Linked DNA regions of Homo sapiens. The protein of the gene in region 3 purifies or fractionates together with the protein of the main gene of each other region. This does not show direct contact. Each region holds a gene or a part of one and is shown on either strand. Other genes may lie near its edges.

The links.
Region 1: the proteins of HADH (region 3) and ETFB fractionate together in Homo sapiens (co-fractionation; one large-scale study listed by BioGRID). This does not show direct contact.
Region 2: the proteins of HADH (region 3) and ETFA fractionate together in Homo sapiens (co-fractionation; one large-scale study listed by BioGRID). This does not show direct contact.
Region 4: the proteins of HADH (region 3) and CLIC4 fractionate together in Homo sapiens (co-fractionation; one large-scale study listed by BioGRID). This does not show direct contact.

The regions. Positions count from the first base shown.
Region 1 is NC_000019.10:51,349,389-51,352,888, forward strand, and holds part of ETFB (electron transfer flavoprotein subunit beta), read right to left. Parts: intron 1,004-3,500; coding exon 941-1,003; intron 1-940. UniProt on the Homo sapiens protein: Heterodimeric electron transfer flavoprotein that accepts electrons from several mitochondrial dehydrogenases, including acyl-CoA dehydrogenases, glutaryl-CoA and sarcosine dehydrogenase.
Region 2 is NC_000015.10:76,214,853-76,217,469, forward strand, and holds the end of ETFA (electron transfer flavoprotein subunit alpha, mitochondrial), read right to left. Parts: intron 1,746-2,617; coding exon 1,707-1,745; 3' UTR 501-1,706; downstream 1-500. UniProt on the Homo sapiens protein: Heterodimeric electron transfer flavoprotein that accepts electrons from several mitochondrial dehydrogenases, including acyl-CoA dehydrogenases, glutaryl-CoA and sarcosine dehydrogenase.
Region 3 is NC_000004.12:108,024,389-108,029,691, reverse strand, and holds part of HADH (hydroxyacyl-coenzyme A dehydrogenase, mitochondrial isoform 2 precursor), read right to left. Parts: intron 2,005-5,303; coding exon 1,932-2,004; intron 1,754-1,931; exon of another isoform or gene 1,623-1,753; intron 1-1,622. UniProt on the Homo sapiens protein: Mitochondrial fatty acid beta-oxidation enzyme that catalyzes the third step of the beta-oxidation cycle for medium and short-chain 3-hydroxy fatty acyl-CoAs (C4 to C10).
Region 4 is NC_000001.11:24,811,447-24,814,946, forward strand, and holds part of CLIC4 (chloride intracellular channel protein 4), read left to right. Parts: intron 1-2,647; coding exon 2,648-2,773; intron 2,774-3,500. UniProt on the Homo sapiens protein: In the soluble state, catalyzes glutaredoxin-like thiol disulfide exchange reactions with reduced glutathione as electron donor. Can insert into membranes and form voltage-dependent multi-ion conductive channels.

The DNA of each region.
Region 1 (3,500 bases), on a different chromosome or scaffold from region 3:
TCTTTTTACTTTTTTATGTAGCTGTGAAAAATTTTAAATTTGTCTATGTGCCTTGCTTCTTTTTTTTTTTTTCTTTTGAGACAGGGTTTCCCTCTTTCACCTAGGCTGGAGTACAGTGGTATGATCACAGCTCACTGCAGTCTTGACCTCCTGAACTCAAGGGATCCTCCCACCTCAGCCTCCTGAGGCTGGTACTACAGGCATGTGCCATCACACCCAGCTAACTTTTCTTTTTTGGTAGAGATGGGGTCTAACTATGTTGCCAAGGCTGGTCTCGAACTCCTGGGCTCAAGTAATCCTCCCACCGTGGCCTCCCAAAGTGCTAGGACTACAGGTGTGAGCCACTGTGCCAAGCCTGCATTTCTTTTTTCTTTTTTTGAGACGGAGCCTCCCTCTGTTGCCAGGCTGGAGTGCAGTGGCGTGCGATCTTGCCTCACTGTAACCTCCGCCTCCCAAGTTCAAGCAATTCTCCCTCAGCCCCCTGAGTAGCTGAGACTACAGGCGCACGCCACCACACCCAGCTAATTTTTAAATTTTTAGTGGAGACGAGGTTTCAACATGTTGACCAGGCTGGTCTCAAACTCCTCCTGACCTCAAGTAATCCACCTGCCTCGGCCTCCCAAAGTGCTGGGATTACAGGCATGACTCACCATGCCTGGCCCCAGCCTGCATTTCTATTGGACTGGCAGAGATGGGGACTGGGGAACCTAGAGTTGAGCGGGTGGGCATGAGTATTTCACGTAGGATGGCAAGGAAGGCCCCTTTGAAGAGGTGATACCTCAGCAGAGACCTCAAGGAGGGGAACAAGAAAGCCATGAGGCAATCCGAGGGAACAGTGTTCCAGGAGGAGAGAACAGCAAATGCAAAGGCCTTGAGGCAGAAATGAAGTTTGAGGGATGAGGGCCTGGCCCTCAGCAGGTGCTCCCCACTCCAGTCTCACCTGTGGCCAGTCAAGAAATCCAGCTGTCATCTGCCCTGTCTGGTTACAGTCATCATCGATGGCCTGAATGGGGAGAGACAGAAGACTGTATGACAATCAGTGGAGCTCATGGACCATTCAGGCCTCTGTCTAGAACAGGGGTTGGCAAACTTTTTCTTTCTTTTTTTTCTTTTTGAGACGGAGTCTTGCTCTGTCACCCAGGCTGGAGTGCAATGGTACAATCTTGGCTCACTGCAACCTCCGCCTCTTGGGTTCAAGCAATTCTCCTGCCTCAGCCTCCTGAGTAGCTGGGATTACAGGCACCCAACACCACGCCCAGCTAATTTTTGTATTTTCAGTAGAGACAGGGTTTCAACATGTTGGCCAGGCTGGTCTTGAACTGCTGACCTCAGATGATCCCCCAAAGCTCTGGGATTACAGGCATGAGTCACCGCAGCCAGTCGGGTTGGCAAACCTTTTCTATGGTGGAACAGATGTAGTAAATATCTCAGGCTCTGCAGGTCATACGGTCTCTGTCACGGTGACTCAGCGCTGCTGTTGTAGCACACAGGCAGCCATAAATAATATGTAAATGAATGTATGTGGTGATGTTCCAATAAAGCTTTATTTACAAATCAGAGGTCGCTCTGGGCCATAGTTCACTGACTTTTGGTCTAGAACGATCCCCTCACTTGGGCCCAGAGATAAGCAGCCACTTGTCCAGGGACATGTGGGGCCACCTGGCATCCCTGTCGTCAAGTCTCTGCCCTCTGTATAAAGCCTCTCAGGAGTCCCACCCTATGTGGCCCCTGGGCAGCTGCATGAACAGGGTCTGGGCCAGCAAGGACATTCTAGCCCCAGCCCAGTGATTGGTTCAGGGAGGGGCACATGACTCAAGCTGCACCAAAGAAGAGTCAGCCCTGGGAGTTTGCTGGGGCCCTTGGGAAAGATGCTCCTTTCTTTCTGCTGGGGTCACTGGGCTGGTGGGATCTGAGCCTGGAGATGCAGACAGTGAAGACAAGGTAGAGGGGAGCCTACAGCTCATATGTGACCCTGGATCAAGCTGTGCCTGAAGCCCCTGATTTACGTGAGATAATAAATTCGCTTTCTGGCTTAAGCCAGTTTGAGTTGTGAATCTGCTTCCTAGAACAAACAGCATCCTGACCAGTTCATCCGGCATTTCCCCAGCTGGAGGCCCTGGCCCCAGGAACTGTCCCTGGCCCAGGACAGGTAGGACATCGGAGTCTGAGAACGACCAGCAAATGCAGGGGGCTGCAAAGGCCATGCTTCCAGCACCTCGGCCTCTGCAGCCCCACCCAGGCCCTGCCTTTTTGGCCTGTTCTCCGGGTAGGCCCTTCGGCCACAGTTGACTGATCTGTACTCTGATGCCCCTGCTGTTGATAATCTCTCTCTGTTTTCTTCTGACTTTCTCAGGGCTGGGCAGGACACCCAGTGACCTACCTGGACCCATCAGCCTCCTCTTTGTCCCAGAACTGACCTGGCCCTGGGATCCCCATCTCTCTCCGGGGGCCCCAGCTCTACCTGAGCCTGCTGTGCTCTGCTGTCTCCGTGCTCTGCTTGACATACCTTGCAGTCTTTGGCCTTCCTTCTCAGCCTCATCCCTAATTCCCTGCCTCTTCTCACTCCCATCTGCCTGTGGCTCTTCTGACGTCCCTCTTCTGCCCCTTCCCTGGTTGAGGCCATGAGGTTTGCCCTCAAATGAGATGAGCTACCCCTGAGCAGAGGTGGTGCCCGAGGGTCTCCTGGGGGAACAGATGAGCTCCATGTACCCCTATCTCAGTGGGGAGCACCAGTGTGGCAGGGAAGGTTCTGGTCGGGTCCTCACCCAGCCCTAACCTCCTTCCCTAACTCCTGGCCTCCAATTTCCCATTCCAGTCCATTCTCAAAGCCCAGGGGGGCTCTTTCTGCACCTAGTGCTGATCCCACCCCTCTTCTGCTCATAGAACTCCCATAGCTCCCCAGTGCCCTCCAAAATTCTCAAGTCTTTGTTTCAAGCCCAGGCCTGTCTCCTGAACCTGCATCGATGTCTCCTGGGCTCTTCACACTCCCCTTGTAGGATCCTCCTCTAACCTCCTGTTCTTCCTGGGTTTCCTACCTGTGTTACCAAGGCAGACCCAGGCACTGTCCTTGCCTCCTCCCTGCCCTCCCTCCCCATGCTAAGCCCAGTCTCTCCTGCCACATCATGTCTCTGCTCTGTCCTGTCACCTTTGGCTGAGGCCTCATTCTCCCCCATGTGACCATCACCTCGGCCTCCCAGCCTCTAAACTCACCCAAAAGGATCTTTCTTCTTTTTTTCTTTTTGAGACAGAGTCTCGCTCTGCTCCCAGGCAGGAGTGCAGTGGTGCCTGGAGTGCAGTGGTGCGATCTTGTATCACTGCAACCTCCGCCTCCCAGGTTCCAGTGATTCTCATGCCTCAGCCTCCCAAGTAGCTGGGATTACAGGCAGGTGATACCACACCCGGCTAATTTTTATATTTTTAGAAGAGATGGGGTTTCACCATGTTGGCCACGCTAATCTCAAACTCTCGACCTCAAGTGATCCACTGGCCTCGGCCTCCCA
Region 2 (2,617 bases), on a different chromosome or scaffold from region 3:
ACAGCTGCTTGGGGCTGAGGCAGGGCAGCCATGACAGGAGGGAGCAAAGGGAGAAAGACCAACCAGTTCAACTCTGAGCCGAGGCACCACCTGGGATGTCCCTCCCTGAGCCAGCACACCTTCTACTGGGGGTGCCTCTGTGGCCATCACCTTTGCCATCTCTCCTGTCCCCCAGTTATAGCATCCAACAGGGATGAGGGGTAAATGGAAAAAATCTTGAGCAAGGTTAGCCCTCTTAGGAAGAACCTCACAGATAAAAACAAGACATAGGAATTACTCTCCCAAAGGTGATTCAAGCCATGTGGCCTTGGCCAAGTCACTTTACCTTCTTCACTTCTCTGTGCTTCAGTATGCCCATCTATACAACAAGGGGTCTGACCAGATAATCACCGGGCTCAGACATTCTAGGATTCTTCTATTCTAACAGACATTACTTGCAAAGAGGCATCATTCTACTGCTCTCCTCTCATCTCATTAAAAGAAGACTGAAATGCCAAAGATACAACTTTTAAAAGTGTTTTATAGCAACTGATTGTGACACAAATCAGAAAGGGTTCACTAGTCAGCTGGGGAAGGGCCCCAGGCTGGTCACACAAAGGCACTCTAGCCACCTCCATCACTTATCACTTCCCTTCTCTTCCCTACTGTCTGCTTGATCCAGGTCACTACTCCTACTTCTGCAGATCTGATTCAGGAGGGCAGCCCTCTTTGTTCTACTCACCTACCTACCCACGCCTTCCTGCAGGCCTGTTCAAAGCCTCACCAGCCTCTGCTCTTGGGCCTGCATCCACACCAGCTGCAGCCCTGGTGACACTCTTGGACCTCAGCTGTGCCCTGGGCAGCAGAATGAGAGTGCCAGAGGTGACTACACAGGCCTGGGTGCTTCCTAAGAGAGCCCAAAAGAAGCCAACAGAAGGCAAAAGAAAGGCTAGAGCATTCTCTGCACAGGATTTTGAATGTTTATAATAACATCAAACTATCTGCTTGCATCAGAGGCCATGCTGTCTCAAAGCAGCCCCTCCTCCACTCTCCCTCCTTTACAGACAAAAGTCCTATAAACTGACAAAACCTTAAAATTAAACGGAAAATGAAATTTACCTTAAGCCAACTAAATACATGGAGCTGGGTCAGGTTTAAGTCAGGTCTGCTTTTGTCACATTAGCTATGGTCTTCTGAAGACTGGAGTATGTTTAAGATAATATTCATGCTTTATAGCCGTGCTTTTTTAACTCTGCACTTGCCAATTCAGTTACCTTCTCCTATGAAGTTTGCCCTTCAACAATGAGATTAGTAGGTTGATTAGGCTGGTGGAGACAATCATGTTTACAATCTTCCTAAAACATAGAGCTCTCCATGAACAAGAAAGGCAAAAAAATAAATAAATAAACAAAATTTTTACTCCTTTTCTTCAATTTTCTCTAGAGGCTAGGCATATTTCTGATAGTTTTAAAGCTGTGGAAAAGCTTTATTATAGATTTTAGTACAGAATTTAAAAAGTTCAAACAATAATTGTTTGGAACCACAAATAATTAAAAGGAAACACAGCAATCCCATAAACAAGCATTCTGGCATCTGTTAGAAATTTTCCCTCAAATTATGAAATGTAGCTCTCCATGCTTTCCAATGATTGTTATAATACCCACAAATATCTGTGATTTCAGTGGAATACTTTAACAAAAGTTTTCTTTTTAAGGCATGATCCTGATTCATTTTTTCTTCAATATCTCAGTCATTTCAGGAACTACCTGCAAATAAAAACAAAAAGTAATTAAGCAACTAGAGCCTTCACTGTGATATGGTCACAGCTCCGTAAGCATTACAGGGAGGCCAAAAGAAACAACACAAATCACTGTTGAGGCACGAGGGCCCCCTCCTCTCCACCAGGAACCCCCTGTTCTCCGGTAGTCTCTCTTCCCACCCAGGGCGACTACCCAGGACCCAGGGCTGACAGGGCTTACAGCCCACTCATTGCCTAGGTGCCTTTTGCCTTTTTTTTTTTTTTTTTTTTTTTGAGACAGGCTCTCACTCTGTCACCCAGGCTGCAGTGCAGTGGTACAATTATGGCTCACTGCAGCATCTACCTCCTGGGGTCAATCACTCCTCCCACCTCAGCCTCCCAAGTAGCCACCAACCTGTCTAATTCTTGTAGAGATGGGGTATCGTCATGTTGCCCAGGCTAGTCTCGAACTCCTGGGCTCAAGTGATCTGCCTGCCTCAGCCTCCCAAAGTGTTGAGATTACAGGCGTGAACCACTGCACACACTGCTACCTTTTGGCTTTGTGACCCAACCACAAATTTCAAGAAGGCACCCTAGAAACAGGAAGCCCAATTTTTCTTGTCTGGGTGAAGAGTACTGTGTATTTACCTTCATGTTTTGCTTGGCATTCTTCCCACCCTTAACTGCATTCCTGACTTTCCTTCCAAGTCCACACCAAAGTCTCTAGCTTACTGCAATTATGACTCCTGCCAACCTCCTTTATACTTGTTCTCTCACTGTTCGTTCATTCATTCATTGTTCATTTCACAAACATATTGGTTGCTTTTTCAGCAGCATGCTACTATCATCTGGCACACAGAAATGTGCTACATGCTGAACATTCAATATCATCACTCTTTA
Region 3 (5,303 bases):
GGCCTGACCTACAACAGCACACACATCCTTCCAGAGAGCCTGCACCACTCAAGGCAGCATTGGCCAAACCATGTGCCTGGAACCCCAGGTGTATCAACAGTGGGGTACAGAAAATTTCTCCTTGCATGAGTTCAGAAACAGTCACAGAGCTCCTGCCGAGGCTGTGCAGGGGGTGTGTGGGCAGATGCAGTAGGCGGTGTCTCAACTTCCTGGACAATATGATACTTTCTCAGTAAGTGCAGTAGCGGGGACCAGTCAGGAAAAGACATGAGTAGCGTGAATTACTCTGCTACCTAAGGAACCTCATGAAGGCAGCCTGACTGGGATGGGGAAAAGGTGGGATGAAGAGGTGGAACAGGCATGACAGGAAGGAATCAAAAGTGATGAACAGATGTGGCAGACGAGAAGGAGCCTCCAGATGCTTGAAGCTTCAAGGTGGAACTGTATGAACGGAGATGGCACGGTGGGCATGCTCTGAGCACTCCTCTGTGTTGGCTGAGAGGAGGGAGCAGGTGGTGGGCGGGGGGACATGGTAAGAGGCCTAGGGTGTGACTGTAGTGTGCAGTAGGGAAGCAGCACCCACCCCAGGCAGGACACCCAGCAACTTCAGAAGCAGATTCTGAGAAGGTGGTGGAAAAAGAAGCAGAGGGACCAGCAATGATAGGCTGTTGAAGCCCATGCCCAGAGCAAGCTAAGAGCATGTCCTGAGGCCAGGTCCTGCTCTTCCAGCTTCAGCCCACAGGCGGCCAGGGATGGTGAGGGCTAAAGGGCATGCACCTATGCAGAAAGGGACCACAGACAAGAAGAGGGCTTTCAACTTACCATCTGATACTTGGTGCATTGGAGAATGCATCAAATGGACAGTGAGGAAAACACCATTAAAAGGTGGATCTCTCACATGCTACATTCTAAAACATTACATTTTGTTAAAAAAAAAAAAAAGACATACAACTGCCTTTCAAGGTAGGGTAAAATGCTCTGTGCTTTCTTTGAGGTGTAATTAGGCATATTTGTTGATAGATAAACCAGAACTGTTGGTTTGATCTTGGAGCAAAAGTGAGGCAATTGCTTCCATAAACCATAGAGAAAAGTTTTAATATTTAAAGCAGATTTTGAGGAAGCAAATGTGCTTTCATCTCTCTGGAAGAGCTGGTGTAAATGTTTTGTTTAAAAAATGACACTCTCAGGAGTGAGCATTTATGAATGAAGTAATTGAAAACAATTACACTTGCTTTTTATCCAGTCCTATTAAGGCTTGTTTGCCTTTGAAGCAGACATGAGAGCTACCTTTCCAGAAACCAGGGAGGGAAAGCAGGCAGGAGAATGCAGATCAATTTAGAGGCCTGGACCCTGTCCCAAATCTGATATTTCTACAGCAGAGAAAAGCATTCTTTGTCAATCAAGTACTGAGGAAAACTGTTTACACCATTCTTAAGGTTACAAAAAGTACATCATGACATCACTCAGTAAGGACAGACTACTAAAAACTGTCCTTACCACATATCGGCCTTGTCACATATTTCTAATCACCTGTCAGTCACAAGTTTTAGAACCTTAAGGAACTTTCAAGATCTCCTAGCCTAGTGATTTTTACATTATGATTATTTTTAAAAGCAGTAAACCTTTTAATCAAAAGCAGAGATCCAGGATATCAATCTGGGCCGGCCATGCAATTGCTCTGGCTGGGACTGTAGTGGGGGTGGTGGGAGTTCCAGAAACCTTTCTCAGAGGCCCACAGGGAAGCCAGGAGGCCCTGGGAAAACAGTGAAAAAGGTACCAGGGCTCAGGGTGCAGCTGAGCTCACAAAGCTAGAAAACAGACACTGCTTCCTCCATTGTGCACGGCCCGACCCCTCCTAGAGACACTGAGAATTCCAGACAGTGGCGCCAGGAGCTGAGGTCTGCTGCTCCTGGCCTGGGTCAGAAGGATACCTCGTTCATACAGCCTGATTGCTTCCATGAGGTATGGAACCAGGAGGCGGTTCACAATAAACCCAGGAGTGTCCTGTTTTGGGAGACAGAAAAACAAAAAACTAGTAAATTTTCATTAAATGGTATCTTTTGTGAAGTCACCAAATTGCCCCTTCTTACCCTGGATCATGTTTGCCCCCATTTATCAAGCTGTACATTTTCAAAATTTGCAGCATGGCCTTATTTCTATCTCATATGACAATTTATCCAACAATCATAGTACTTAAAAAAACATTCAAACCCAGATGCCCCACTGCACAGATCCTGACATAAAGACAGATCAAGGCACAGGTGTGACCTGGAAGAGCATGGCTTTGGGAGAGACAGATTTGGGTTCAATCTTGAATACTCTCTTGGTCCTTCTGTCACTCTGAATCTGTTTCATCATCTGTGAACTGGGGGTGACAGTTTGTCTCAAAGTTGTGAAGATAAATCAGAAAACACATAAAATGCTGTACACACAGCCCTACACCCATCCCTTTATTCCTCCTCTTTCCTCCCAATTCCCTTTCAAGAATCGACAAAACGTCACACTCCACCTTGAATGGTCCTCAAAGGAGGACTGCTTTCCAGGCTCCTTGGAGCCACTCCTCGGCTACTCAGCAACTTCTCAGGTTCCAGCGCACACTGCAGTGGAGCTGACTTGAGGGCACGTGCTCCGACAAAGGAGCAGAGCCTCTGACAGAGAGCTGGCCTTTCACGGCACACCCCCTAAGACCTCTGCATCCTGCGGTGACCCCTGTGCCACATATGCCTTTCATCCATTTCCCTTCTCAGTAACTAACAATAATCATCTCTCTGGAGGACAGGTGTGGGATTTGGATTTTATCTACTGATCTCTTCCGGGGACTTGTAGAGAAAAGCAGGTGATTTTTTTGTTGAAGCTGATTTCCACTAGGCAAATGGTGCCTCCTCTTTTGTCAAAAGGCTGTGATCTTCCTGAGGGCAGAAATCCTCACCCTGGCCTGAACTCTGCATTCTGTTTCTAGCACACACCAGGTACTTCCTTAATGTCTGAATTACAGATGACCAGGCACTCCTCACAGAGCTAACCTGACTGCATGCGGGGAAACTGGACAGTAACACAAAGGATGTGAACCTCCTTTAACCCTAGGCAAACTGAAACCAAGCCCTAACCCCATCTATTGCCACATGAGCACAAAGATGCACAAACAAGTTTTATCAGCTTAATTAAGATTATGGAACAATACAGATTTTATAATTGAGGCAAAAATACTCTTTTCAACTTCAAAAGGTTCACTATAGACTCAAGATAGGGTACCTGAGAACATGAAGCTCCAACAGTTAATATCTTCTACAGAAAAAGCTCATAGAGCTCAATAAGGAAAAAGTGCCAAGACTCATTAAATATTTAAACTCACTGGCCAGTCGCAGTGGCTCACACCTGTAATCCCAGCACTTTGGGAGGCCAAGGCGGGAGGATCATGAGGTCAGGAGTTCAAGACCAGCCTGGCCAACACAGTGAAACCCTGTCTCTACTAAAAATACAAAATTAGCCGGGTGTGGTGGCACGCGCCTGTGGTCCCAGCTACTCAGAAGGCTGAGGCAGGAGAATCGCTTGAACCCGGGAGATGGAGGTTGCAGTGAGCTGAGATTGCGCCACTGCAATCCAACCTGGGAGACACTGCAAGACTCCATCTCGAAAAATAAAAAAATAAATAAATAAACTCACTAGTAATCAAAAAAATACGCATTTTTGCCAACAAGATTATCAAAGGTTTTTCCCCCACTGTAATAATATTTGATGCTATTGAGAATGCAGAGAGACAGATGCTATCAGTATATTGGTGGAATGTGAAAAGACACAGTCTTTTTTTTCTCTTGGCAGGGTCTTGCTCTGTTGCCCAGGCTGGAGTGCAGTGGCATGATCTCAGCTCACTGCAGCCTCCACATCCTGGGCTCAAGCGACCCTCCCACCTCAGCCTCCCAAGTAGCTGGGACCACAGGTGCACACCACCATGCCCAGCTATTTTTCTGTAGAGAGGGTTTTTGCCATGTTGCCTAGGCTGGTCTCGAACTCCTGGGCTCAAGTGATCCACCAGCCTTGGCCTCCCGAAGTGCTGGGATTATAGGCGTGAGGCACCGTGCCTAGCAGGAGACACAATCTTTAAATAAAGTAATTTTATTTTATGTAATCAAATTCATATTTTTCAGATTATTTATTAAACACATTTTATTTACTGTACTTACTGTGTGCCAGGTACTGTTCTAAATACTTTAAAAATATTAATTTATTCATTCCTCATAATAACCCTGTGACAGAGGTACTATAATTATCCTTATGTGAAGCATGAGGACACTGAGGCACAGCGAGGTTAAGTAGCTTGCCTAAGGTTACACAGCTAATAAGTGCCGGCACCAGGATTTAAACCCAGTTGGGCTAGTTCATACCCTTAACCTATATACCACAATCCCCTCATGAAGTCTCACTAGGAAGGCACATTCCAGGCACATTAATGCCCCTCTTCTATGTCAAGTATTGGTAAAGTACAATACTGTAGCCCACAGCCTGTTTTTGTAAGTCAAGTTTTACTGGAGCACAGCCACACTCATATTGCATATACTGTCTATGGCTGTTTTCATGCTACAACAATAGAACTGACTACTTGCAACAGAGACTGTATGGCTGAAAATATTCACTATCTGGTCCTTTACAGAAGTTTGCTGACCCTTGTCCTATGTAGTTGCCATATATTGTCCAGATGCCTCATAAAGAGCTTCAATAACTGACCCAGAAAGACCCTCTGAAAGCCCTTAGAATACCACACAGAGAGAGTTCTGGAATGACCTAACAAGATAATTTAATGAGAACAAAGAGTTCCCATCTCTGCAGCTGCCGTGGCCACTCTGATGGAAGACTGAATCATTACTTTGTAGATTAATTATTATGCTGCTGAAGATAATCATTAGCTTTTCCCTGTACTTCTGTTTCCATATCTTTTTGTCTTGCACAGATGTTCTTTTCAATACCATTACTACTTTCTTCCACTAACAAAGCATAACTGCGTAAGAAAGTACAATCATAACATCCAATTATTAATATGAGTTTAGAAATCTAGATGACTTAAAACTACAGAACCAAACAAACAAAAAATGGGTGTTAAAGCATGAGACTCCCTAACAACACTTTACCCATGGACGGGGAGGAGCAGGACACACAAGCCTGCTCTCTTTGGCTGCTGGAGTCCACCTCAACAGATGGCTTCTTCAGGTGATTCATGAACAACATGATTTTTCATGGGTTAGTACAGTACTGTAAGTTCAAACTCGAGAATATTTTAGAAAGCAAAAGTTTGCTATGAGAACTATAAT
Region 4 (3,500 bases), on a different chromosome or scaffold from region 3:
GCCCCAGAGGCTGCTTTGTTTTGGTTTGTTGTTGTTGTTGTTTTGAGACAGGGTCTCACTCTGTTGCCCAGGCTGAAGTGCAGTGATATGATCACTGTTCACTGCAGCCTCGACCGCCTGGGCTCAACCAATCCTCCCATCTCAGCCTCCCAAGTAGCTGGGACTACAGGCACATGCCACCACACCCAGCTAATTAAAAAAAATTTTTTTATAGAGATGGGATCTCACTATGTTGCCCAGGCTGGTCTCGCTTGAACTCCTGGACTCAAGCAATCCTCCTGCCTTGGCCTCTCAAAGTGCTAATGTTACAGGTATGAGCCACTGCACCCAGCCTGCCCCAGAGGCTTGATTAGATTCAGGGTCAACTTCTTTGGTAAGAATACTTCATGGTGCCATAGGAAACACACCATATCTGGTCATCTCATTTTTTGATCCTAAAATTCATTGGTGGGTTTGGGTGAGCCATTTTGCTTTTTTAACAAGATAGTACAAACACTTCTTGCTGTTAGTAGTTGTCAGCATAACAGTTTCACCATCTTTATCAGTGTTTTGTGGTGTTTTCAATTTTTCCTAATCAACAGGAGGAAGACATCTTATTGTTTACTTTTAAATTCCCTTTATAGTTGTGCTATTTTACATTTTTCTGTGTGTTCACTTGTTTTATCTGTCTCTCATCAATTTCTTTTGACCCATACCTATTTGATTTTTTTGATGACCTTTGGAATGAATTTGGACAAAATCCTTAGGTAATGTAGATTTTAAGCTTTTCTCACTCAGTACTTTGTCCATTCTTTGTTGCTTTTTACCCTTCATTATGCCATCTTTTATGTATTGAAGTAATTTTGATATTAGATAGTCTAATCTGGTGATCCTTTTCCTTGTCAAGCCTGGACTTCTAGAATAATGGGAAAGAAATAGCACCAGAATTTGGAATCTTTTGAAGTTGAAGATGACTGCAGGATTCAGCTGCTTTTCTCTTTTATTTTGCCAAAAAGAAAAAAAAAGGCCTAGGGAAGTCATGACTTACCCATCTTTACACAATTAGTTGGGGCCAGAGTTGAAACCAGACACTAACTCTCCAAAATCTTTTTTCCCTCCTCATTCTATCACTATCTCTAATGAGTGACTTAGTTAATTTGGAATGAGAATGATGGATTTTGTATTTTGGTTAAAAAAAAAATCAAAGCATTTTCTTACCATAAATTATGTATTTTGTGGAGGCTTGCTTCTTATTAGAATACTATTACAGCTATTATATCTAGTGGAAAAGTACTATTTCTTTCTTTTTTTTGAGACAGAGTATTGCTCTGTCACCAGGCTGGAGTGCAGTGGTGCGATCTTGGCTCACTGTAACCTCCGCCTCCCGGGTTCAAGTGGTTCTCCTTCCTCAGCCTCCCAAGTAGCTGGAACTACAGGTGCATGCCACCATGCCCAGCTAATTTTTATATTTTTAGCAGAGACGGAGTTTCACCATGTTGGCCAGGAGGGTCTCAATCTCTTGACCTCATGATCTGCCCACCTTGGCCTCCCAAAATGCTGGGATTAGAGGCGTGAGCCACCACACCTGGTTGAAAAATACCTTTCTTTCTTTCTTTCTTTCTTTTTTTTTTTTTTTAAGATGGAGTCTTGCTCTGTCGCCCAGGCTGGAGTGCTGTGGTGAGATCTCTGCTGACTGCAGCCTCTGCTTCCGGGATTCAAGCGATTCTCCTGCCTCAGCCTCCTGAGTAGCTGGGATTACAGGCACATGCCACCACGCCCAATTAACTTTTGTATTTTTAGTAGAGATGGGGTTTCACCATGTTGGTCAGGCTGGTCTCAAACTTCTGACCTCGTGATCCTCCTGCCTTGGCCTCCCAAAGTGCTGGGATTACAGCCGTGAGCCACCGTGCCCGGCTGAAAAATACCATTTCTTATTCAGTTTTATATACTTTAAATTTTAGAACCACTTTGATCTCTTTTCTTTTTCTTTTTCTCTTTTTCTTTTTCTTTTCTGACAGGGTTTTACTCTGTCACCTAGGCTGGAGTGCAGTGGTACATTCTCAGCTCACTGCAACCTCCGCCTCCCGGGTTCAAGTGATCCTCCTTCCTCAGCCTCCCAAGTAGCTGGAACTACAGGTGCGCACCACCATGCCCAGCTAATTTTTATATTTTTAGCAGAGATGGGGTTTCACCATGCTGGCCAAGCTGGTCTCAAACTCCTGACCTCAGGTGATCCACCCGCCTCGGCCTCCCAAAGGGCTGGGATTACAGACATGAGCCACCATGCCCGGACAATTTATTTATTTTCTTTTTGAGACAGGGTCTCTCTGTCGCCCAGGCTGGAGTGCAGTGGTGCGATCATGGCTCACTCCAGCCTCAACTTCCCAGGCTCAAGTGATCCTTCCACCTCAGCCTCCCTGGTAGCTGGTACTATAGACACGCACCACCATGCCTGGCTAATTTTTTATGTTTTGTGGAGACAGGATCTTACCATGTTGCCCAGGCTGGGTCTCAAACTCCTGGGCTAAGCAGTGTCCCACCTCAGCCTCCTGTAGTGCTACGACTACAGACGCAAGCCACCGTGCCTGGCCAACTTTGAGAATTTAAAGTATTATTGTTGTTTAAGAGTAAAAAATGATCTGATTTTGACCAATATTTTGCCCAACAGGAAGCCAGCAGACCTGCAGAACTTGGCTCCCGGGACCCACCCACCATTTATAACTTTCAACAGTGAAGTCAAAACGGATGTAAATAAGATTGAGGAATTTCTTGAAGAAGTCTTATGCCCTCCCAAGTGAGTATCAAGGAAAATACGTATGAAAATATTGTCACTTCTTTGAAGCTTGTGTTATTTGTCAGTAGAGATCTTTCTCGCAGCATTAATTTGGAATGACTAGGACTCTCTTCTATGTTTCTTATAATTAATGCTACACAGATATAAGAATTGGCTTCCAGCTAGGCCAATCAGCCATACTAAGAAAGGTGGGGATTTGTCTAAGCTGTAGAATATGTGGTAGAAACAGATTTGGGATGTGTCTGATAGGTCAGGAAAGACTGGTTATTTGTGGACTGTAGGTCTCAAACTGAGAGAGAAGTTTAAAGAGGAGAAGGGGTGGGGAAAGACACATTCCAACTGAACCCAGTAAGAATGTCTTAGCAGGAGTGTGGCACAGGACTGCAATGAGATTTGATTTCAGTTCATTTTAAAGGTAACTTTCTAAAGCTATAATCCAAGGACATTGACTTTTCCGACTGTGTCCCTAGGATTCAGAGTTTTTATTTACTTACTTCTTTGAGGTGTTCCAGATCTCTAGGTCCTGGATGTACTGTAATGATAGTTACCTAAATTGCAGATATGCAGCTTTGCATCATACTGTAATATTGGCATAGATTCAAAGCATTATTTGTTTCTTTTAGGCTTTTCCAGTTTCATTATCCTGAAAATTGACATGTTTTGTTTCTACTGACCAAAACCTTTCTTACTGGTTAACTTGACTGTTGCCCTCCATGTCCAGATATAT